Linked DNA regions of Homo sapiens: all the other regions are linked to region 3. The links come from fine-mapping of genetic effects on gene expression. Tissue or cell type: thyroid. Region 3 holds a variant in brackets; each other region holds the start of a gene. All regions are shown on one strand. Distances are from middle to middle.

Evidence for each region. PIP is the estimated chance that this variant, and not a neighbour inherited with it, causes the effect.
Region 1: PDCD7 starts here. The variant in region 3 is fine-mapped to the expression of PDCD7 in thyroid (GTEx, PIP 0.95).
Region 2: UBAP1L starts here. The variant in region 3 is fine-mapped to the expression of UBAP1L in thyroid (GTEx, PIP above 0.99). The same link has a PIP of 0.9 or more in whole blood.

What each region holds. Positions count from the first base shown.
Region 1 is chr15:65,129,735-65,137,849 of GRCh38, forward strand. It overlaps PDCD7 (programmed cell death 7), which reads right to left and starts at 4,074. Exons shown (of 5, transcript NM_005707.2): 1 at 3,178-4,074. The coding sequence starts at 4,047. RefSeq lists silencers at 3,300-3,699, 3,760-3,969 and an enhancer at 4,260-4,359.
Region 2 is chr15:65,111,161-65,119,275 of GRCh38, forward strand. UBAP1L (ubiquitin associated protein 1 like) reads right to left here and starts at 4,040. Exons shown (of 6, transcript NM_001163692.2): 1 at 3,990-4,040. PDCD7 (programmed cell death 7) reads right to left here. Exons shown (of 5, transcript NM_005707.2): 5 at 6,219-7,680. The coding sequence ends at 7,557.
Region 3 is chr15:64,911,737-64,919,736 of GRCh38, forward strand. It overlaps ANKDD1A (ankyrin repeat and death domain containing 1A), which reads left to right and starts at 166. Exons shown (of 15, transcript NM_182703.6): 1 at 166-228; 2 at 4,061-4,164; 3 at 5,650-5,778. The coding sequence starts at 195. RefSeq lists a silencer at 12-191 and enhancers at 378-921, 3,629-4,129. The variant C/T (reference allele first, on the strand shown) is at 3,142.

The DNA.
Region 1 (8,115 bases), 220 kb after region 3:
TCCTCATAAGACTCTGTCACCAATATCCTCACCATGGAAGCTGGGCATAATGGCATGTGTCCCTAGCTATTCCTACTCAGGAGGCTAAGGCGAGAGGATCACTTTAAGACCAGGAGTTCAAACCTACAGGCTATGACAAACCCGCTGCACTCCAGCCTGGGCAACAGAGTGAAACTTTGTATTTTTTTTTTTTTTTTTTTTTTTTTTGAGACAGGGTCTCATTCTGTTGCCCAGGCTGGAGTGTAGTGGTGTGATCACAGCATCACCATGCCCAGTTAATTGTGTTTTTTGTAGAGACGAGGTTTCTCCATGTTGCCCAGGCTGGTCTGGAACTCCTGGGCTCAAGTAATCTGCCTGCCTCAGCCTCCCAAAATGCTGGGATTACAGGAGTGAGCCACTTCGCACCCGCCCCCAACCCTCTTTTTTTTTTTTTTTTTTTTTTTGAGATGGAGTCTCGCTGTTGTCCAGGCTGGAGGGCAATGGCGCGATCTCGGCTTACTGCAACCTCCGCCTCCTGGGTTCAAGCGATTCCCTGCTTCAGCCTCCCAATTAGCTGGGTTTACAGGCTCCTGCCACCATGCCCAGCTAATTTTTTGTATTTTTAGTAGGGACAGGGTTTCACCACGTTGGCCAGGCTGGTCCCGAACTCCTGACCTCAGGTGATCCGCCCGCCTTGGCCTCTCAAAGTGTTGGGATTACAGGCATGACCACGGCGCCCAGCCCCAACCCTGTCTCCTTAAAACAATAAAATAAATAAAATAAAAAGTTCACCATGGGTGGTGGAGAGAATCCTCTTGCCTAAAGTGCTCTCCCCCATCTGTCAAATAAGTGCCTGTAATTCCACCACTACAGCTACAGCCAACACCAAGCTGTTTCACTTCTCCATTTGGATTACTCTGTTTCCCTGGAACTGCACCTATTACCTTCACCTGGGTGACTTTTCCTTTAAGACTCAGCTTATAGCCAGGAGTGGTGGTGTGCACCTGTAATCCCAGCTACTCTGGAGGCTAAGGCAGGAGAATCGCTTGAACCTGGGAGGCAGAGGTTGCAGCGAGCCAAGACGGCATCACTGCACTTCAGTCCGGGCAACAGTGCGAGACTCTGTCTCAGAAAAAAAAAAAAAGACTCAGCTTACGTGTCATTGTATCATTTGGGAAGCATTCCCTCAGTAAATCAGATGTTCCTTCTTTGGGCTTTTACAGCACCTATAGTTGAATTCCTAACACACACCACGCTATACTGACATGATCTCCCACAGATCTCTAAGCCAGGGGTCAACAAACCCCAGGCCACGGATGGTAACCAGTCCATGGCCTGTTAGGAACCAGATCACACAGCAAAAGATGAGGCAGGCGAGCAAGTGAAGCTTCATCTCCATTTACAGCCACTCCCCCATTGCTTGCATTACCACCTGAGCTCCGCCTCCTGTCAGATCAGCAACAGCAGCATTACATTCTCATAGGAGCACAAAGAAGTGAACTGCGCATGGAAGGGATCTAGGTTGTGGGCTCCTTATGAGAATCTAAAGCCTGATGATTTGTCACTGTCTCCTATCACCCCCAGATGGGACTGTCTAGTTGCAGGAAAACAATCTCAGGGCTCTCACTGTTTCCACATTATGGTGAGTTGTATAATTATTTCATTATGTATTATAATGTAATAATAATAGAAATAATGAGGAAGAGGAAAGGGAACCCCAGAGGCAATCAAAGGTAATGAAAATGCCTTAGACGGCCAGGTGCAGTGGCTCACGCCTGTAATCCCAGCACTTTGGCAGGCTGAGGCGGGTGGATCACCTGAGGTCAGGAGTTCGAGACCAGTCTGACCAACATGGAGAAACCCTGTCTCTACTAAAAATACAAAATTAGCTGGGGTGTAGTGGTGCATGCCTGTAATCCCTGCTACTCGGGAGGCTGAGGCAGGAGAATCGCTTGAACCCGGGAGGTGGAGGTTGTGGTGAACCAAGATCATGCCATTGCACTCCAGCCTGGGCAACAAGAGCGAAACTCCATCTCAAAAAAAGAAAGAAAGAAAATGCCTTAGAAAACCATCTGAACAATTTCCAGTTTTACCCTGGCCCTGCTTAAAGAGTCTGAGATCAATACGCTTTGGAATTAGACAACTTGGGATCAAATATGGGAAACTGCCACAAACTCGTTGTGTGACTGTTGGCAAGTTAACCTCTCTATGCAACTTCCTAACCTGTAAAATTAGCATAATACTTCCTACTTCTCAAGGCTGTTATAAAGATTCAAAATCTGGTATATGTAATGACCTTAGCACACCTCTCTCTATATATACACAGATACATACATATATATACACACATACACATACATACATATATATACACATACATATATGTATGTGTATATATATGTATGTATGTGTATATATATATATATATATAGTAAATGCTCCGAAACACCATTGCTGAACCTGGGGATACATGGTTTAAAACTTGTAAACAAAAGAATCCTAGGGAAATCACTATTGCCCCATCAGCTAATTAGAGTATATATATTCCTTGAGGTAGGGTCCCCAAGTTCTCTATTTTTTTTTTTTTTGAGACGGAGTCTTGCTCTGTCGCCCAGGCTGGAATGCAGTGGTGCGATCTCGGCTCACTGCAACCTCCGCCTCCAGAGTAGCTGGGATTACAGGCGCCCGCCACCACGCATGGCTAATTTTTGTATTTTTAGTAGAGACGGGGTTTCACCATCTTGGCCAGGCTGGTCTTGAACTCCTGACCTCGTGATCCACCCGCCTCCGCCTCCCAAAGTGCTGGGATTACAGGCGTGGGCCACCGCGCCCGGCCTGTATTTTGTATTCTTAAAACCACCTAGGGCAGTACAAGACACAAGGAACTAGACACTTACTGGTTTTGAGAGTAAGTGGACAATGTTGGAGCAGGATAGGGGAGACCTGTCATTCGTGCAGTGCCACCGTGTAATCCTATACTTTGTGTTTACAGGATTTTACAGTGCACCTGGAACTTTTGTGTACCACACATCATTAACACAAAATTAACATGGTGGTATGAGCTGGGAAGGTTAGCTATCGCTTCATTTTGCGCGTAAAACAGAGGCTTAGCCCTGGGAAATGGAAGTTTAAAGCCTCCTGCTGCTCCAGGTTCCAACCACCACCACTCCTACCCCCATGAGCGGCCGCTGCTCTCACCCGCTTCTTCTCCTCCACCTCCTGCACACACTTCACCCTCCAGCGGTCAATCTCCTGCTCGCGTTCCACTGCCCGCGCGGCCTCTGCCTCCCGCTCGGCCTCGCGTTCCCGGGCCCTCTCGCGAAGCCGCAGCCGGCGGCGCCGGACCCTCTCCAGCCTCCTCCGCGCCTCGCCCACATAGGCAGCCTGGGTCAACGGCTGTAGCCGCTCGGCCAGTTCCGCGCGCAGCGGCGCGGTCTGGGAGTACAGCAGGACCCAGGCCGCGCCGTCGGCTTCGGCCTCGCGCAGGGCCTGGCTCAGGCCGCGCAGCCGCCGCACCAGGCGCAGAGCCCGGAGCAATCGCGCGCGCACTTCGCCAAGGCTGGGCCCGGCATGCGTGCGCTGGGGCACCGGACAGCCTGCCCGCCGCGGGGTCCCGAACACCGCCTCCAGCCACTGCCGGTCGCGCAGGCGTTGGAGGGCCGCATCCCCGAGCACGTCGGCCGGCGGCGGCGGCGCCTCAGGCCACCGCGGGCTCCAGGGCGGCCCCGGGCCGGGAGGCGGTGGCCGCGGCCGCTCGCCGGCGTCGGTCCCCGGGAAGGGCCGACACTGGGGCGGCGGAGGAGGCAGCGGCGGTGGTGGCACCGGGTAGAAGGCGCCAGCGCCGCCTCCGCCGCGGGAGGCCTCCGCGGAGGCTCGGGGCTGCAGAGCCAGCGGAGGCTGAAGGAAGGGGGCGGAGGCCCCCGGAAAAGGGCCGGGCCGCTGGGGGAGAGGCGGCGGGAAAGCCGGGGAGGGCAGCGGCGGTGGCGGACAGCCGAAAGGAGCAGGAGGCGGCGGCTGCGGGGGCGGTGGGCCTGGGCGACCCTGGCCGAAGAATGGTGGCAGGGCCATGTTCACGACGGAGATGCTTTGAGAAGTGACAGGAATCTGAGTGGCTCCTCATGAGAACCTTCCGACGGAAGTGACGTCGTTACGACGCGCGACCCCTGTAGACTCGTCCCTCCGGAAGGCTCAGTGCATAAGTGGGCAGTCGTTCAACCTTCTGTCGTTCAGTTCATAAATACCGTTCTTATTGAGCATCCTAGGTGCAGAGCTACCCACTCCGCATACAGTGAGACTGAGAGATACAGAGCTTCTCTTCGTGGAACTATCTGCCTAGTATAACACACTAATCAATTAATCATGGTGAGTATCTTCGAGAAGTTGGAGAAGGTTATCCTAAGAAACTGCGGCTGCAGCTGAGATCTGGAAGATAAATAGTTAAATAGAAAAAGAGAGGGAAGCACAGTGCAGATGAGAACATGTGCAAAGGCCCTAGTAAATAGGAGTGTGACCAACTACCCATTTTCTTAGAAAAATGAATTATTTTTACTTTTCTCCTTTCACCCCACCTCCTATTTAGCTCTTTAGGAATGCAATTATAGGGTGGGTGCTGTGGCTCACGTCTGTAATCCCAGCACTTTGGGAGGCCGAGGCAGGCGAGATCGGCCTGTAGTCCCAGCCATTGGGGAGGCTGAGGTGGGAGGATCACCTGAGCCCTGGGAGGTAAAGACTGCAATGAGCCACGATAACGCCACTGCACTCCACCCTGGGCGACAGAATGACACCTGTCAAAAAAAAAAATCCAATTAACCTTTACCTTCTCTCCACCAGACACTCTCTACACTGTAAGCTTATCTAATTATGTGTTCGCTTATTAGTTCCAAGGACCGAAGCTTAAACCAGGGACCTCTGGAACTTTCCCATACCAGGGGATTGCCTGGGGACAACTGTCAATTTACAACCTAGCTCCCCGCTACCCCCCACCCCCCCTCCGCCTTCGCCCCAGCCTCCATGGCGCCAACCAGATCACTGATGGATACATAGGAGCAAGTCCCATAGACCCAGCACCTCCTTGGTCCCTCCCCACCCCTTGCATGCCATCCAGGTCAACCAAGTCCCGTGCACCCCCCACTTTTTTTGAGACAGAGTCCCTCTGTCACCCAGGCTGGAGTGCAATGACGCACTCTCCACTCACTGCAACCACTGCATCCCAGGTTCCAGTTATTCTTGGTGCCTCAGCCTCCCTAGTCAGTTGCTGGGATTATAGACCCCTGCTGCCACGCCTGGCTAATTTTTGTGTTTTTAGTAGAGAGGGGGTTTCACAATGCTGGCTAGGCTGGTCGTAAACTCCTTACATCAGGTGATCCGTCCACCTTGGCCTCCCAAAGTGCTGGGGTTACAGGTGTGAGCCACCACACCTGGCCACTTTCTTTCTTTTTTTTTTTTTATGAGACAGAGTCTCCCTGTGTCGCCCAGGCTGGAGTGCAGTGGCGTGATCTTGGCTCATTGTAAGCTCTGCCTCCTGGGTTCATGCCATTCTTCTGCCTCAGCCTCCCGAGTAGCTGGGATTACAGGTGCCCACCACCATGCCTGGCTAATTTTTTTGTATTTTTAGTGGAGATGGGGTTTCACCATGTTAGCCAGGATGGTCTCGATCTCCTGACCTCATGATCCGCCTGCCTTGGATCATGTTGGGATTACAGGCGTGAGCCACCGTGCCCGTGGCAGTCACTTTCTTTTTACCATTCTCTTACTTGTTATTTGAATTTGCAAGCTGCAGGGAACTGGACCTGCCTTAGGTTACAGGACTATGTCTAGTGGGAAGCCTGATAGAATGCCAGTTTTGGCCTGTAATCCCAGCACTTTGGGAGGCCGAGGCGGGTGGATTGCCTGAGCTCAGGAGTTCAAGGCCAGCCTGGGCAATATGGTGAATTCCTGTCTCTACTAAAACACAAAAATTAGCCAGGTGTGGTGGTGCGTGCCCGTAATCCCAGCTACTGGGGAGGCTGAGGCAGGAGAATTGCTTTAACCCAGGACGTGGAGGTTGCAGTGAGCCGAGATCACACCACTGAACTCCAGTCTGGGAGACAGAGCGAGACCTTGTCTCCAAAAAAAAAAAAGAATGCGAGTTATGGATGGAGCTCTGAGAGGAGTCTGGTGATCCTGGTGAAGTGAAGTCCTAATGTCTGGGGTCTCATATCTTATGAACAATGGGAAACTATTTTGTTGTTGTTGTTGTTGTTTTGAGACCAAGTCTCACTCTTGTTGCCCAGGCTGGAGTGCAATGGCGCGATCTCGGCTAACCACAACCGCCACCTCCCAGGTTCAAGCAATTCTCCTGCCTCAGACTCCTGAGTAGCTGGGATTACAGGCACACACCACCATGCCCGACTAATTTTGTATTTTTAATAGAGACGTGGTTTCTCCCTGTTGAGGTTGGTCTCGAACTCCTGATCTCAGGTGATCTGCCTGCCTCAGCCTCCCAAAGTGCTGGGATTACAGGCGTGAGCCACTGTGACCAGTGGGAAACTATTGGTTTTAAACAAGAGGTAAAGAGAAGCCTGTGCCACCTGATTAGATTTTTAAAATTAAACTATTTTGAGACAATTGTAGATTCATATGGAATATGAGAAGTAGTAATACAGGGAGATTCTGTGTACCCTTTACCCAGTTTCCCCTAAGGGTAACATCTTGTAAAACTGTAGTACAGTATTGTCAGAGGCATTTGAACCAGAGTGACTCCATCTTGAGTGAGGGCTAGGAAAAGTGAAGCTGGGACTTGCTTGGCTGCATTCCCAGGAAGTTAGGTATTCCTAGCCTCTAGATGTTTATGGTTAAGGGAACAGACTAATAACATTTACTAAACAGACCCGTACTTAGGAGTGTCCTGAGATCCCGATATTTTGAGAATAGAAGCATTCCTAATTTTGCTTTAAAGATAATAATGTTGATTCTTGTAAAATATAGTAATTTAAAAAATTAATCCTTTATCACAAACCCTTGTGGCAGAGCACATCTCCCCATGATCTTTTTTTATCCTATATATAAGCAAGCATTCTACCTAGGGTGGACACGTTTCTCCTCTTACTTTCAGGAACGCCCTACTGTCTATGGAGTAGATATTCTTTCACCACTTTACTTTCTTAATAAACTTGCTTTTGCTTTGCACTGTGGACTTGCCCTGAAATCTTTCTTGCACAAGATCCAAGGACCCTCTGTATTAGTCTGTTTTCATGCTGCTAATAAAGACATACCTGAGACTGGGTAATTTATACAGGAAAAAGGTTTAATGGATTTACAGTTCCACATGGCTAGGGAGGCCTCACAATCATTTGGAATGCTGGGATTACAGGCGTGAGCCAGTGCACCCGGCCCCAGACCTCAATTCTTGACTTTTGCGCACCCGCAGGCTCAACACCATGTGGAAGCTGTGAAGGCTTGGGGCTTGCACCCTCTGAAGCCACAGCCCAAGCTGTACCTTGGCCCCTTTTAGTCACGACTGGAGTGGCTGGGACACAGGGCACCAAGTCCCTAGACTGCACACAGCAGCGGGACCCTGGGCCTGGGTCATGAAACCATTTTTTCCTCCTAGGCCTCTGGGCCTGTGTTGGGAGGGGCTGCCGCAAAGATCTCTGACATGCCCTGGAGACATTTTCCCTATTGTCTTGGAGATTAACATTCAACTCCTCGTTACTTATGCAAATTTCTGCAGCTGGCTTGAATTTCTCCTCCGAAAATGGGATTTTCTTTTCTATGGCATTGTCAGGCTGCACATTTTTTGAACTTTTATGTTCTATTTCCCTTTTAAAACTTGATGCCTTTAACAGCACCCAAGTCACTTATTGAATGCTTTGCTGCTTAAAAATTTCTTCTGCCAGATACCCTAAGTCATCTCTCCTAAGTTCAAAGTTCCACAAATCTCTAAGGCAGAAGCAAAATGCTGCCAGTCTCTTTGCTAAAACATAACAAGAGTCCCCCTTGCACCAGTTCCTAATGAGTTTCTCATCTCCATCTGAGACCACCTCAGCCTGGATTTCATTGTCCATATCATTATCAGCATTTTGGTCAAAGCCGTTCAACAAGTCTCTAGGGAGTTCCAAACTTTCCCACATTTTCCTGTCTTCTGAGCCCTCTAAA
Region 2 (8,115 bases), 200 kb after region 3:
GAAGGTCCCACTGTAACCAGTAAATTATCTGCCCCATCAGCCAGTTCTTACAGGGGACCTTTGAGGTACAAGGGTGTTATAGGAGACACAGGAAAGTTCAGCAAGTTTTGGCATTCTCAGATTTATTATTCACATTTTCAGGTATCATCTGAATTTTGAGCTATCTCCAAGGAAGGGACACAGTTCTATTGAGACTATCTGTCCACTTAGCAGGTATAGGGCACCCTTCTCTCCATCTTCCGCCCAGCATCTGCATCCTAATAGGTATTTTCTACTCAGCCCTACACTTGCTTCTAGGATACTGAGGATTTGGGGAACATATCTATTTTTTTCTTTTTTGAGACGGACTCTCGCTCTGTCTCCCAGGCTGGAGTGCAGTAGTGCAATCTTCTAGGCTCACGGCAACGTCTGCCTCCCAGGTTCAAGCGATTCTCCTGTCTCAGCCTCCTGAGTAGCTGGGATTACAGGCACCCACCACCACGCCTGGCTAATTTTTGTATCTGTAGTAGAGGTGGGGTTTCGCCATACTGGTCAGGCTGGTCTCGAACTCCTGATCTCAGGTGATCCACCCGACTTGACTTCCCAAAGTGCTGAGATTGCAGGTGTGAGCCACCATGCCCAGCCTATATCTCTTTTTTTTTTCTTTTTTAGGCAGAGTCTTGCTCTGTCACCCAGGTTGGAGTGCAGTGGCGTGATCTGGGCTCACTGCAAGCTCCGTCCCCCGGGTTCAAGCGGTTCTCCTGCCTCAGCCTCCTGAGTAGCTGGGACTACAGGCGCCTGCCACCACGCCTGGCCCTATATCTCTTAAGAATGGCAAGGGCTACAGTAAAGATATCGATATTGCCTAGTTAGAAAGTATTCTAAAATGAGGGTCACCTCACTAGGTACAACATGAGAGGTACAGATCATTATGTAATAATATTCTCCAAAGGAAGGGGAGTGGTCTAGTCCTTATGGGCATTGGAGAAGCTTCAGGAAGTAGATGGGACTTGGCCTTGACCCTGGAAGGTGAAAGAACAGCCTGTGAGCAAGAGAGCAGAGGAATCTGCAGGGTGGAGAGAAGTGACAAGTTGCTGGACTTAAGCAGATGGTCTGTGCTGGGAAGCAGTACGAAGTAAAATTGAAAGGGTAGACTGGGGTAGAGCTGGGGAGAACTATGAACTTCAGGCTGAGTGCTGACTCCATTCAGCAGGTAGTGGGCAAAGTGTGGAAGAGGCCTGAGGTGGTGGAATGGAGTAGGGATGTGGGAATGTTAGGAAAGCCAGGCTGTGCATGCTTGGACAAACTGTAAGCCAGGACCTCTCAAACACTAGCCCATGAGGTGGTGCCCATGTGCTTGGATCTGGGCATGGGGATGGGGAGTGGGATGGGTGAAGGTGGCACTGATTGATTTAAGTGGGGCCCAGGCAATGACATTAGTATTGTTTCCAAAGGTCTTCACTATACTCTCTAAATGACTTTATTCTTGCCCAGAGCTTCAATTACCTGCCAATGATTCACAAATTAAATTCTCCAGTTCTCTTCTGAGATCAAACTCATAAACACAACTGCCTACACAGTGTCTCAAGACTTCTCAAACTCAACGTATCAAAGTGAACTGATTTTTCCCTTCCCCAAACTGCTCCTCGCCCCCAGGGTTCCTTGTCTCAAGGAATGGTAACATTGAGCCAGGTGCACGAGTACTCATCTCTGATACTTTCCTCTCCTTTACCACCACCATCTCAAATTTCCTGTGAATTTTTATCTCCTAAATCTCTGGAATCCAGCCATTTCAGGCTAACTCCACTGCTTCCATGGGAATCCAAGCCCCCATTATCTCTCACCTGGACCACTCATCTCCATGTATCCTCACATGCTTTATTATTATAATTCTGTTCCACACACTGAGGCAAGAATGACCATTTCAAAACCAAAACTAAGCCACTCCTGGCTGGGCACGGTGGCTCATGCCTGTAATCCCAACACTTTGGGAGGCAGAGGTGGGAGGATTGCTGGAGCCCGTGAGTTAAAGACCAGCCTGGGTAACATAGCAAGACCCCTTCTTTAGAAAACAAAACGAAACAAAACTAAGGCACTCTCCTACTTAAAACTCTTCAATGGTTCCTGGCTGTTTTCAAAATAAAAATTAAACTTCTGAAGGCTTGCAGTGTCTGGCCCGTTTCCTCTCCTCCCATCTTACTCCAGTCATGCTAGCCTTCAACTGCCATGGTCTCTCAGTCCCCACAGAACCTTTGCATATCCTGTTCTGGATACTTGCTAAGTTCTTCCCTGTTGCTTCCCCACAATTAATTAAAAGCTGCTCAAATGCCAGGCACAATGGCTCACATCTGTAATCCCAGCACTTTGGGAGGCCAAGGTGGGCAAATCACTTGAGGTCAGGAGTTCGAGACCTGCCTGGCCAACATGGCAAAACCCCCTCTTTACTAAAAATACAAAAATTAGCCTGGTGTAGTGGCACACGCCTGTACTCACAGCTACTCAGGAGACTGAGACGAGAGAACTGCTTGAACCTGGGAGGCGAAGGTTGCAGTGAACCAAGATCACGCCACTGCACTCCAGCCTGGGCGACAAAGCGAGAGTCTGTCTCAAGAATAAAAAGAAAAGAAAAGAAAAGAAAAAGCTGTTCATTCTTCAGAGCTCAGCTGAAACATCACTTCCTCAAAAAAGCTTGCCCTGACTCTCAAACTTGGTCAGGTCTACCTAGCACAGTGGCCTTTACAAAGTTTTTTATTTTTTACTTTTTTGAGATGAAGTCTTGCTCTGTTGCCCAGGCTAGAGTGCAGTGGCTCGATCTCAGCTCACTGCAATCTCTGCCTCCCAGGTTCAATAGATTCTCCTGCCTCAGCCTCCCGAGTAGCTGGGATTACAAGCACCTGCCACCACGCCCGCTAATTTTTGTATTTTTAATAGAGATAGGGTTTCACCATCTTGGCCAGGCTGGTCTTGAACTCGTGACCTTGTGATCCACCTGCCTTGGGCTCGCAAAGTGCTGGGATTACAGGCATGAGCCACCGCGCCCAGCCTTTTTTTTTTTTTTTTAACTATGACCCATAGTATACTTTTATTTCCTAGCATACACATATGTAAACTGAATAATGATTCTTACCCTTACTATATGATACATATTTCCTATTATTTCAACTAAATGTGTCACAGAACGCTTTTGAAGAAAAATCCTAATTCATAATCTCAGAACCATGTCTTTCTTTCAAAGCACTCAGCATATTTTTTATGATTATTGGGTTAATATCTACCTTCCTCATTGCCTGTATTCTGTATGAGGTTAGGGAGTATTTGGCATTTTGCTTAGCTTTAATAGGCACTTAAACATTTGGAATGAAATATATAAATTGGCTGATAAGTACTTTTCCTTGTAGCACTTATCACAATTGTCTCTAATGACTCTGTTATAATCATTAAGCTTCTTCACTCTAAACTCCAGGAGGTCAGGAATCCTGTCTGTTCACCCCTTCTTACATCCCTAGCACCTAACCACAGTACCTGGAAAATGGTAAATAAAAAATCATTTCCCATAGAACATAATTCAAATTCTGGTATCCAGACTGTGGCCAGCATGAATTAACAAAGCTGAGGAAAGTGTCCACTGTTCTACACAGTTATGCACTCTAACACCACTTGCCTCAGAGACCTTAATCTTTGCTTTGGAGGCTATGAAAAACCAAATTTATTCCAAAAGGCAAATGAACTCTGCAATGGAAACATACTCTTCATGTGTGGCCAGATACAGGAAGCCAGGAACTACTATGTGGATTCACAAAAAGGTAAAGAGCTCATCATATGGAAATAGCTTATAGGTTCTAAGCATTACAAAAAATCTGGGACAAACAGGTGGCAAAAAACAAATTTAGTTGATAATGTCTCATTTAATCACTATTCCATAAATCACTACTATTTCAGAATGTTCACATTCCTTTCATATATTGCATATTATACTTATTTAAATGGAATAAGATATACTTTGTACTTACCTTGTAATTACCAGGAGAACTTCCCTGCAGACAAAGCGTGTATAAATGAATAGCTACAACAGATGGCATAAGCCTAAGCTTCTTGTTACAAATGTCACATGGGCATAGGAGCATGAATGGTTTTATAGAGTGATTAAGTTGGTTGGCTTGTAGCAGCAAATTCTTTGACATCATAAACTCAGCCACTTGGGCTAAATACCCTTAGTATTTAAGAACTAATCTCTTTCTCTCATAGCTTTCTAATCTCTGTATTTACCGAATTTATTAAAAACAAATGCTTTTGTACAGTTTTTCTTTTTAAAAGTATTCCAGTTAATAATTGAAGAATGACAGAATTAAACTATCACTATTTTTGAGTCCCCTCCCCATCAATGAATGAATCTGGGTCTTATCAGTGGCCGCTAACATCACAAAAAAAGCCAAGACATCAGTGCCTCCTGACTGGAAGTACACATTATGTCTGTGAAGTATTCCTGCCAGAAAATTCCAATCTGAATGTGATCAAGCCTCTAGATCAGCACTATCCAATTGAAACGTGATCCACATATGTAATTGCACATCTCAACTCAAATAGATCACATTTCAAGTGCTCAACAGCTGAATGTGGCTACTATATTGGACAGTACAGCTCTGTTTAACTACTAAATTATAGGACATACGAGAACAGAGGGACATGGCATCACAAGGATGCAAACAACAGTGTATGGAGTCTATTCAGATCCTAATTTGAACAAAACGTAAAACATTTACGAGAGGGCAATTTGAACAATGATTGGATATTTGTGATATTCAGGAGTTGTTACTCCTTTATTTAGATGTGATAATGGCCCTGTAGTTAGATTTTTTTTTTAATCACTTAAAGCTACATAATGAAATATTTACAGATGAAGTAATTTGATGCCTGAGATTTGCTTCAAAATAATCCAGGGTGAGTGGAGGATGTATAGATGAAACAAGATTGGCCATAAGCTGATAATGATTTGAAGCTGGATGATGGGTACATGGAAAAAAATCATTGTACTATTCTCTTTACTTTTGAATGTATTTGAAATTTTCCCCAAGTTAAAAAAAGAAAAAAAAAGACTGTGGGATAACATTACAATAACACTGCTCATATTCTTGAAAGTACAATTCATTAAAGATACTACCATGAGTCTCTCTAAACCTGAAAGAACCAGTGGCTACTGCCACCACCACTACACACAGGTAATAAACCAGGAAAATCTTACAAATAAAAACCGAACAAGAGTAATGCTCATGTTTTGTTTTGTTTTTTAATTTTCTTTGTTTTGAGACAGAGTCTCGCTCTATTGCCCAGGCTGGAGTGCAATGGTGTGATCTCAGCTCACTGCAACCTCCGCCTCCTGGCTTCAAGTGATTCTCCTGCCTCAGCCTCCCAAGTAGCTGGGATTACAGGCGCCTGCCACCATGCCTGACTAATTTTTGTATTTTTAGTATAGATGGGGTTTCACCATGTTGGCCAGGCAGGTCTTGAACTCCTGACCTCAAGTGATCCATCTACCTTGGTCTCCCAAAGTGCTGGGATTACAGGCGTGAGCCACCACACCCAGCCTGATCACTTTATTAAAACCTTGCAAGGGCCAAAGGAAAAAGGGATTTTTTTTTTCTCCATCTGTGGCTAAATGCCACCTTCTTGGGTTCTGCTGTCCGAGTTTTCCTGAGTCCCTGCAGCACATTCCCTGCCCTCACAGCAGATATCTTAGTGGCAAGGCTGTCCAGACACCAAACACACATCGTACAATTCACCTTATTTCTACTCTTCCTGCATCTCATCAGAGAGCAAATGGTGGAGATATCTAACAAAAAGGCACACAGGATTGTGGAGCTCTATGAGGGTAATCATATCAGATTTTAAGATTTATAAGCGTAGACATACATTTTGGAGACATGTGGCCCTCATTCCCTATCTGTTGACTCTATATAATGTATAAATTAATGCAAATTAAACAACAGAAAAGGGACAAAGCCATTAGTATCTTGCACCCAAAAGCTTCCAACTACAGTACGTAACATTATTTCCAAAATTGATGGTATCCTTACCAATCCAGACTTGGATTTTGCAGATAAAGTTTAGCATTTAAGATTCAAATTCCTGTAACAAATGCCTGCTTAATAAATTTGAATTTTTGAATGAAAATATGTTTCATCAATGTGAAAGTGTGTGTTAAGTGATTTGGAAGGCAACAAATTGGCAGCAAAGGCACAAACTAAAAAATAAAAATGATTTTTATTTAGTTTTTTGGAAATATAACAAAATAATTGGCAAAAACCAAACCAAAACAGAACCAAAAAAATGACATGTTATATGAGTGATCATCTCCAAGCACAACAGCATTTATTAATGAATATAAAAAATAAATTTTACTTTTTTTTTTTTTGAGACGGAGTCTTGCTCTGTCTCCCAGGCTGGAGTGCCGTGGCGCGATCTCGGCTCACTGCAAGCTCTGCCTCCTGGGTTTTACACCATTCTCCTGCCTCAGCCTCCCCAGTAGCTGGGACTACAGGTGTGCACCACCTACGCCCAGCTAATATTTTTTTGTATTTTTAGTAGAGACAGGGTTTCACCGTGTTAGCCAGGATGGCCTTGATCTCCTGACCTCGTGATCGGCCCGCCTCGGCCTCCCAAAGTGTTGGGATTACAGGCGTGAGCCACTGTGCCCGGCCAAATTTTACTATTTTTATTTGCTTTTTCCCCTAGATTTGACTACATGGATAGTTTTAGAAGCTTGAGTTCCTAAGATAATTCCATAGCTACACTGGCTCCTACAATGTGACTGAGTGAGGTTAGGGAAATATCCTTGGGGATTCTGAACAACTAGACCCTTAGAAACTTAAAAATAACAGGTGCTTTCATTAGGATCCTTCTAACATGGAAAAAATACAGCCATTGTCCATTAAAATACAATCCAATTTGGGTACTCTTCAGGTTTTCTAAGTTCTCCATCTGAATAATAAGACTAGGCCACCATCTTTTCTGGCAACCCAGCCTACAGCCACTGCCATCTTCCTAACTAGCAGCCTCCTAAGCTGCACTAAAACTGGGATTAACACAACTGAAGATAACATTTTTGACCTTTCTTCCTAGAAGTCAAAGGGCTCTTCAGGTAGGAAAGGTCAGGAGGTTTTGCATCAAGCTTGCCTTCACACTCACTATTAGTAGAAGGGCTGTGAAATCTACCCATCACACACCTGTATTCAGTGTTTGAGTGTACTTACCCATCAACACACAAGGAAGTTAGAGTAAATTAACAAGTCACTCTGGACCAAGCCCCTCAAAACAGAGGCAAATTTGGTGAACCAAGGTCATTCACTGCCTGTGGTAAAAACCTCAGTTCACCTAAGTCCTTTCCTGAAAAACCACATTAATCTGATTCAAGAGGCACCTCTGGCCAGCACAGAGCACAGAAGGAAAGCATAACTTCAGGGTAGGGGAATGCCACATGGAATTTAGAAGTTGCAGTTTAGTCTACAGCAAAAGATGGCACCATCGCTAATATTTACAGCTGGAAAGAGCGCTGGCTGGACCACACTCCTGGAGCATCTTTACTAATGCAGCTTAACAGCAGTTGCCCAGATGTCGTTGCTGGGGAGCGGGGGAAGGACCCATCCTTGGGGAACGAAGTTGCCTTTGGGATGATCGGATGGCACCAGGTACTGATCCCAATCATGCCTTAATAAGAACATTATAGAACAACTATTTATTTCTGTTTTATTCCAAATAAGATGTTCAGCAACTACATATTCTAAGACTTAGCTTTCAAATGACTGATATACTAATCTATTACAGAACTTGATTTCTAGGAATCAAGAAAATGACTATATTTCTTAAATGTACATATAAAAAGAGGAAAAACTCTGAAGAACTTAAACCTTATGGATAACCAAATAACAAATAAAGTCAATCCTCATTATTTACAGATTCTGTATTTGCATATGTGCCTACTAACACAGGGCAAGTCACAACCTGAGTTTTTTTCTTCACCTATAAAAATAGGGACATCAACTTCTCAAGGACTAATGAGGACTAAACAAGATGTATGCAGCATCCTTGAAACATGGAAACATTATAAACCCATAGTTTTTTTTAAGTTCCTTATGGAACTTA
Region 3 (8,000 bases):
GGTTAAGAGAGCAGGAGGAGGGACCTGCGTCCTGGTCCGGGACTGGGGTGGCCGGGGCAGCTGCGCTCCTAGCAGGCGGGGCGTGGAGTCTGGAGGAGCGACCGCCCCGTCCTCTCGGCTCCCCGGGCCCCGCCCCGGCGGACGCGCGCCTCGCGCCCGGGCACCAGCGCGCGCAGGGGCTGCGGAGCGGCAGGATGCAGGAGGAGCTGGCGTGGGAGACCGACGGCCGTGAGTCTGCCTGGAGGAGGGAGGGGGGCGGGCCGAGGCCGAGAGGACCCCCGCATCCGTTTGGGGAGTGCCAGGGGTGAGGTTGGCGCCCTCCGAACGGCCACCTCCGTGTGGGGCGTCTGTGTGGCTCCGAGCGGAATGGTTACCGGTCCGCGCACTGGGCCGAGGGGACCTTGCCAGTGCGTCTGGGACTCGGGGACCACACCCGCCAGGTGAGCGGGGAGCAGCGGCTGAGAGGTTAGCTACAAATAATAAAGGTAATAGCGATCCTTGACTGCGTGCTGTACTTTGTGTGCCAGGCCTTGACCCAGGAGAGGCACGTCATTTGATCTTCGCTGCGGCCATATGGGTAGGACATTATGTTATCTTCATTTCGCAGATGAGAAACTGAGGCACAGGGTGTTCAAATGAGTTGTTCAAGGTCACACAGCCATTGAGTGGTAGAAGTGCTGAAGGGCCCAGCTCACCCGGAATGCTGGGGCTGGATAGCGAGTGGAGACCGCATCAGATGGGGCACGCACTCAGAGGAGAGGAGCCTGACTGGCCACAGGTGGAATGAGGGCACCTCCGAACCTCCCTCAAGGAGTGCGCCCAGTGCCAGGGCCTCTAGGCCGGGCAGCAGCGTCTGTGTGGGCATCAGCTGGCCTGGGGCAGCTTTGGCTGCACCGTCTGGGAGAGGGGAGAGAAAGATTGTGTCGGTGTCTGCACTGTGAGTCCTTGATCCTGCAGCCCTGGCTGAATCCTGACAGCTGAATCCCGGGGCTTTCCCTCAAAAGCGCATAGTGCAGCTCACTGGATTCCTTTGAGACCTATAGTGTCCAAAATGCTGGCACACTGCATCTACTCAGCTGAGGGATGTGTTGGGGGTGGGAATGCTCAATCAAGATTAGGTACATGGTTCTGCCTGGGGCGGAGGATCACTTGAGTGGGCCTGCGAAGAATGTGTACCAATGGAGCATTGGGGTGTGTGGCAGAGAATTCTGGACAAAGACCCAGCATGGGCAAAGGCTCAGGTAGCTCAGTGGGTATTGGATGTGGCCAGAAAGAGGGTGCCGGATGGGAGGTGGATGGAAGAGATGAGACTGGACTTGATTTCATTCTAACTTAACCTTCTCTGGCCTGACCCTATGCAGTGTCTGCTGGCTTCCCATTGGAACTCCTGGCTGTTTGCCAATACAAACCAGGCCAATCCCCCTAAGCTGCACATAAGATAGAGGGTGCCAGACAGGAAGGGACCTATACAGATCTCTTTCTTCACCCTCCCCCAGTTTTACAATGGAAGAAACAGACCTACAAGGGGGATGTGACTAGCCCAGGATCCTGCTGCTGGAAAGTGGCAGGGAAGGTACTAGAACCCAGGCCTCTGTAAGCTCACATCTGAAGTGGCAGCTCTCTTTGGCTACCAGAATTTGACCCTTTGCCTTGGAGGAATAATAGTGATGATGATGGTGGTGGTGGTGGCGGTGTGGTCATTATGTGCCAGACACTGTGCCAGGGGGTTTTCATATCTCATTTCTAATCATGATATTAACCTTGTAGGGAAGCTCGCACTCCTGTTTTGCAGATGAGGAAACTGCCTAACACAGCTAGGAAGTGGTTAAGCCAGAGTTGAACCCAGGACTGTGTGATTGCCCCCCAGGGTAGCAACTCTGAGATCCACAGGTTGTATCCATGAGGCCCCAGAAAGCTCAAGATCCTCTTTCTCATCTGGAGAAGACTGTGTGGAATTTATCTAGAAAAACAAACTGCATGGCAGGCCTGTCTCTCACCTCAGTGCATCTTAGCCTTCCCTACCAAGACACTCGTCACCTGTCCCTGGATACACAAAGGGGCTGGGTTCAGACATTCATACTGGACCAAACATGCAGGCTATGGGGTCACTTGCCCTGCAGTGACTATGGAAAGGGCCAGCAAATATTTGTCTCTGTGCTAGTATGTGTGAGCACTTTGGGAGAGGGGACAGGCATCTATTCGTCTGGGGATTGTTGGTGTCACTCATACAAGCAGAGATTTTTTTGTTTCTGTTTTCTTTTTTTTTTTTTGAGATGGAGTCTCGCTCTGTCACTAGGCTGGAGTGCACTGGCATGATCTCGGCTCACTGCAACCTCCAGCTCCCAGGTTGAAGCAATTCTCCTGCCTCAGCCTTCCGAGTAGCTGGGACTACAGGTGTGTGCCACCATGCCCAATTAATTTTTGTATCTTTAGTAGAGACGGGGTTTCACCATGTTGGCGAGGATGGTCTTGATCTCCTGACCTCGTGATCCATCCACCTCGGCCTCCCAAAGAGCTGGGATTACAGGTGTGAGCCACTGCACCCAGCCTGTTTTTGTTTTCTTTTTAGAGACAGGGTCTCACTCTGTTGCCCAGGCTGGAGTGCAGAGGTGCAATTATAGCTCATTGGCAGCCTCAAACTCCTGGGCTCAAGCAAGCCTCTTGCCTTAGCTTCTTGAGTAGCCGGGACTACAGGCATGTGCCACCACACCTGGCTAATTTTTAAAAAAACTTTTTTGTAGAGATGGAGGTTTTGCTTTTTAGCCCAGGCTGGTCTTGAACTCCTGGCTTCAAGCCATCCTCCTGCCTTGGCCTCCCAAAGTGCTGGGATTGCACGCATGAGCCACCATGCCTGGCTCAAAAGCAGAGTTTTGTGGGTTCCTCCTGTGCCCACCTTTGGGCCTGCTGTGAGCTGTGGGTGGATCAGGAAGGGTCAAGTGTGGCCAGGGCCTCCAAAATACTTGAAGTCTAGCCATGGAGACTAGACATCCTCACAATCAAGAGCCGTCAGGATGATGGCAGCATGGGGCTCCGGTGGGGATCATCTGGACCTGTGTCCTCCTGGCTCAGAGACTAATGCAGTCTGACCCTGAGCCCACAGGTGTGCGTGACAGGGGTTGGCAGGGGGAGCTCTGAGGTTCC[C/T]TTTAATCTGAGACTCTGTGCTAAAGGTGCAGCGATGGGGGTGAGAGGAGCACAGAGAAGAGAGACCACAGAGAAGGAAAATCAGGGTAGCCTCAGCGTGGGCAGGTGGAAGCTGGTTAGGATTTGGGCAAGAGTGATTGGAAGAGGCTGGGCGCTGTGGCTCACGCCCGTAATCCCAGCACTTTGGGAGGCCGAGGCAGGCAGATCACTTGAGGTCAGGAGTTGGGGACCAGCCTGGCCAACCTGGTGAAACCCTGTCTCTACCAAATATACAAAAATTAACCAGGTGTGGTGACACACACTTGTAATCCCAGCTACCGAGGAGGCTGAGGTGGGAGAATCGCTTGAACCTGGGAGGCAGAGGTTGCAGTGAGACAAGATCACGCCACTGCACTCCAGCCTGGGCAACAGAGGGGTTGGAAGAAGGGGTGGAGGAACAAGGAGACGGAATGTGCAGGAGTGGGGTAAACATGCCTCTGGCCTCACCCGGCGCTGGCACGCAGTAGGTGGCTCAGTAAATCCTGGCTGTGTAGACTGAGCCGTGGAAAAGATGGTTACTGACTCCAGAGGGAGTTAATTTCATTTCCTTCCCCAAGAGCAGCTCTTGGGAGGGTACATGAAACTTGGATAATGGGGCACACATTTAGGCTGCTGAAAATGGCTTCGCCCTGCTCTTCCATCTTCAGGGTTTCACCACGTCCTGGTTGCGTGGCTGTGGGGTGAGTTAATGAGGAAGAGCAGCCTGTCTGGGGAGGACCCTGACCTTGAGAGGGAGGAGGGCTGTGCCGCTCTGCCCCTGTTCCTAGCTGAAAGACCCCTGCTCCAGAAATGTTCAGGAGTGGAAATGGGTTGTTTACCTCTCCTGTCTGCAGTGTGGGGCATCCTCCCCCTCATCCTGCACCCCATTTTCTCCCCACAGTGCTTCCTCTGGAGAGGCAGCTCCACGAGGCCGCCCGCCAGAACAATGTCGGCAGGATGCAGGAGCTGATTGGGAGGAGGGTTAACACCAGGGCCAGAAACCACGTGCGTAATGAGCTTCTCTGAATCCAGGCACCTGGGATAGTGTCACGATAATGCCAGTACACAGGGGGAATAGTTTATCTGAGCTAGAGGCAGGCACATTTGCATGTGTAAACTTGGAGGGAGGCTCGGGCTCTGTCCTCATGGCCTGCATTGTCTCGAGGAATCTGAGGCTTAGAGTGGTTGGGCCCCCACCCAAGGTCAGGACCAGGATGTCAAGCCAGGCTTGGGCAATTCCAGAGGTCAAACTCTTAACTTCTGGGACCCATCTGAGAGGTTAGAGCCAGGAGGGCCAGGGTCAAAGGTCAGCAGCCAGAAGCTGGCAGATGGGCAAAAGAGGAGGACAGACATCACACAAAGCATCTCACAAACAATTCATTCCCTCTGTGATAAGTTGTCGTAAGAGCGTGTGCAGGAGGGTCGGCTTTTTTTCTTTTTTTTTTTTTTTGAGACAGGACCTCATATCACCCAGGCTGGAGTGCAGTGGAGCAATCACAGCTCACTGTAGCCTTGACCTTCCTGGGCTCAGTTGATCCTCCCATCTCAACCTCCTGAGTAGCTGAGACTACAGGCGTGTGCCACCATGCCAAGCTAATTTTTGTATTTCTTCTAGAGATAGGGGTCTTGCTATGTTGCCCAGGCTGGTCTCAAACTCCTGGACTCAAGCTGTCCTCCCACCTCAGCCTCCCGAAGTGCTGGGATTACAGGCATGGGCCACCTCACCCTGCCAGAAGTGGCATTTTTGAGGAGCCAAGTGAAGGACAATATTTCAGGCAGAGGGAATAGTATGGGCAGAAGCCCTGAGGTAGGAAGGAGCAGCTGGGCTCCAGAGAGGGGATGTGGCTTGCCTGAGACCACAGAGAAAACTAGTGCTTCCTTTCATTGTCCCCTCATAAGCTGAGAACTACAGAGGGGAGAAGTGGGCACAGGGGCCACAGGCCAGCTTCCCTCAGGCCTATTTGGATAACGTTATGAACTGCCAAGGTGGTCTGAGAATGAGGTGGTGGGTCAGGTCCCTTCAGCCCCATTCTGAGAGAAGGAAGGGGACAGAACCCAGGCACTCCAGTGCCTCTCAGGGACTTGGAGGATAATCCTTGGCCACATGGGGCTTTCCAGCAGGGGGAACAGCAGGAAAAGGCCTAGAGGTGGGAAGCTGCTTGGTATTTCTGAGAAGCAGTGGTGGGCAGTGCCAGACCATGCAGCGCCTCATCATCCCCAAGGTTAGGAGTTTATCCTGAGAGCCATGAGAAACTGTGAAGAGTTTTAGATGGGGACAGATGGGTCCAGTCATTTTACTATGTTGGCTCTGGCTGCCATGTAGGAGAGGAGCATGTGGCAGAATGGGGCTGGGTCCCCAGCTAGCTGGGGACCAGAGCCAGCAAAGACCCTTCCAGCCTGCAGACCAGCTGTCCTGGGGGAGGGTGTGGGAGGTGGTCCAGGCAGCCAGGTGGCAGCAGCACCTGACAAGTGTCATCTCCCTCCGGGCAGGTGGGCAGGGTGGCCCTGCACTGGGCTGCAGGTGCAGGGCACGAGCAGGCTGTGCGTCTGCTTCTGGAGCACGAGGCTGCTGTGGACGAGGAGGATGCGGTAGGGGCCCTCACAGAGGCACGTCTGTGTGTACGTGTCTGTCTGTCTGTCTGTCTCAGGGTGGTGGGGGGCACTGGAGATCTCTCTGGGTCTATGAGCCAGTTGCCGAGATTGCTGCTAATATGCAGACATTCAGGTGCAGAGTGGTGGGGAGTCAGAGGCTTCAGGCGCAGGGACACTGCACTGATTCTGTTTTACTCCTGTACAGCAATGAAGAGCTCTCCACTTTCAAGGGTCTTTCAGTTCTCAGAGAGCCTTTTCAGTCCCTCATGATACCATGCGAACAGAGAGAGGGCTGTAGAACAGATAATTGGGTGGATTGATAGAGGCCTGATTAGCAAAAGCACCAGGAGGAAAGTCTCTCATGATATGCCACAGGGCTCTGCCCTGGCTAACACTTCAATCAAAGTCTTGGATAAAGACTAATAATAGTCTTAGTTAACCAATTGGCAGGCAGCGTGTTGCTGAGAGAGAGCACTGATGAGTAACGGGGTCTGTAAAATTATCTCTACAGGTTTGGGAAAAAGGCTGAATCTAATAATGACATTTGAAAGGGATACACTTATGGCTTTGTCTACATTTAAATTAAAAAAAAGCGCCTGGGCGCGATGGCTCATGCCTGTAATCTCAGCACTTTGGGAGGCCAAGTGGGTGGATCACTTGATCCCAGGAGTTTGGGACGAGCCTGGATGACACGGCGAAACTCCGTCTCTACCAAAAAATACAAAAATTAGTCAGTCTCATAACCTGGTGTCTAAATACATAAATAGATAAAAATTTTAAAATAAAAAATAAAACCATAAACTTCCCTGCAGCGACTTAGTTGTCCATGAAAACAATTTTCTTTGTTCCGGCTTCTCTCTGCTCCCAGGCCTCACTATGTGGGGGCTTGATTACTAGTTGGGGTTGAGGTGAGGCAGCAACCCTTACCTCCCCCATTCCCCAATCCTGTCTCCTCCCTGTACCTGCTTAGGCCTCCTTTAGGGATGCCTTTAGGAGCAGAATGTCTAGGATCCTTAGCCTGAGCTCCCTGGTGAAACACTAGAGCCTCTTGCATCAAGTCTTTATACCCACAGAGACCCCCACTATCACCACTGTGCTGTTATTTCTTCCTTCAGGGGTTTAGTGAGAAAAGAAGCTACGAGGGAGAACAGTAAGAGGGGGCCCTTTTAGAATCCCTCCTTGTTGGCCAGGTGCGGTGGCTCACACCAGTAATCCCAGCACTTTGGGAGGCCAAGGCAGGAGGATCACCTGAGGTCAGGAGTTCGAGACCAGCCTGGCCAACATTTCGAAACCCCGTCTCTACTAAAAATACAAAAATTAGCTGGGTGTGGTGGCACACACCTGTGATCCCAGCTGCTGGGGAGGCTGAGGCAGGAGAATCGCTGGAACCTGGGAGACGGAGGTTGCCATGAGCCAAGATTGTGGCACTGCACTCCAACCTGGGTGACAGAGCGAGACTCTGTCTCAAAAAAAAAAAAGAATCCTCTCTGTTTCTTTTGCAAATGGTAATAAGTAACCTTTTGAAAAATAAGACAGCCTGCTGGGCTTGCCTGCTGTAGTAATGGGGTTCGGGAGATACTGGAGAAGGGAAATCCTGTGGTTGGAGGAAAGTCTGTAGTGATATGCCGCAGGACTCTGGCCTGGACAGTTCCTAGGAACTATGTATGTGGGGAAAGCTGGTATAGGACTGTGATGTATCCCGGAGGTCCCCACTGTCAGGAGGCTCTGGCTCCCATGGCTCTCCCTCCCTCAGTCCTGAGCCTTCACCCTTTTTACTCCCAAGCGTCTGTGGACTCCTTCCTCTGGACTCTGCCCGTGCTTGTTCTTTCTCCTTCCTCCTGCAGCCAGCCCACAGTTGCTGATACTCTACCAGGTGCTGAGCTCTGAACCAGTGCCAGGTCTCCTGGCCTCTTCGGCTCTAGTTAAGGCCAGCTGTAGACCCTCATTTGTTTCTTTTGTTTTGTTTTATAATTTTTAATTTAAAAAATATGTCCCCATCTTGGATGATAGACCCTCATTTGAGGCTCTATGCGAGATCCAACACCTTCTCTAGGATTTCATGAGGAAGAACTTAAGTGCTTGTGGTCCCTGCTGGCTCTTGCTTCCAGCTTCTGGTCAGCTTTTGGCGTTCTCTTGAAATTTTGCAAATAGTCCTTTGACTCCACCCTGGTGTCATCCCAAACATGGTACCTCTCCCCGGTTTCCAGGGACTCCATTCACAGAAGGCTTGTGGTGTGGTTTTCCAAACT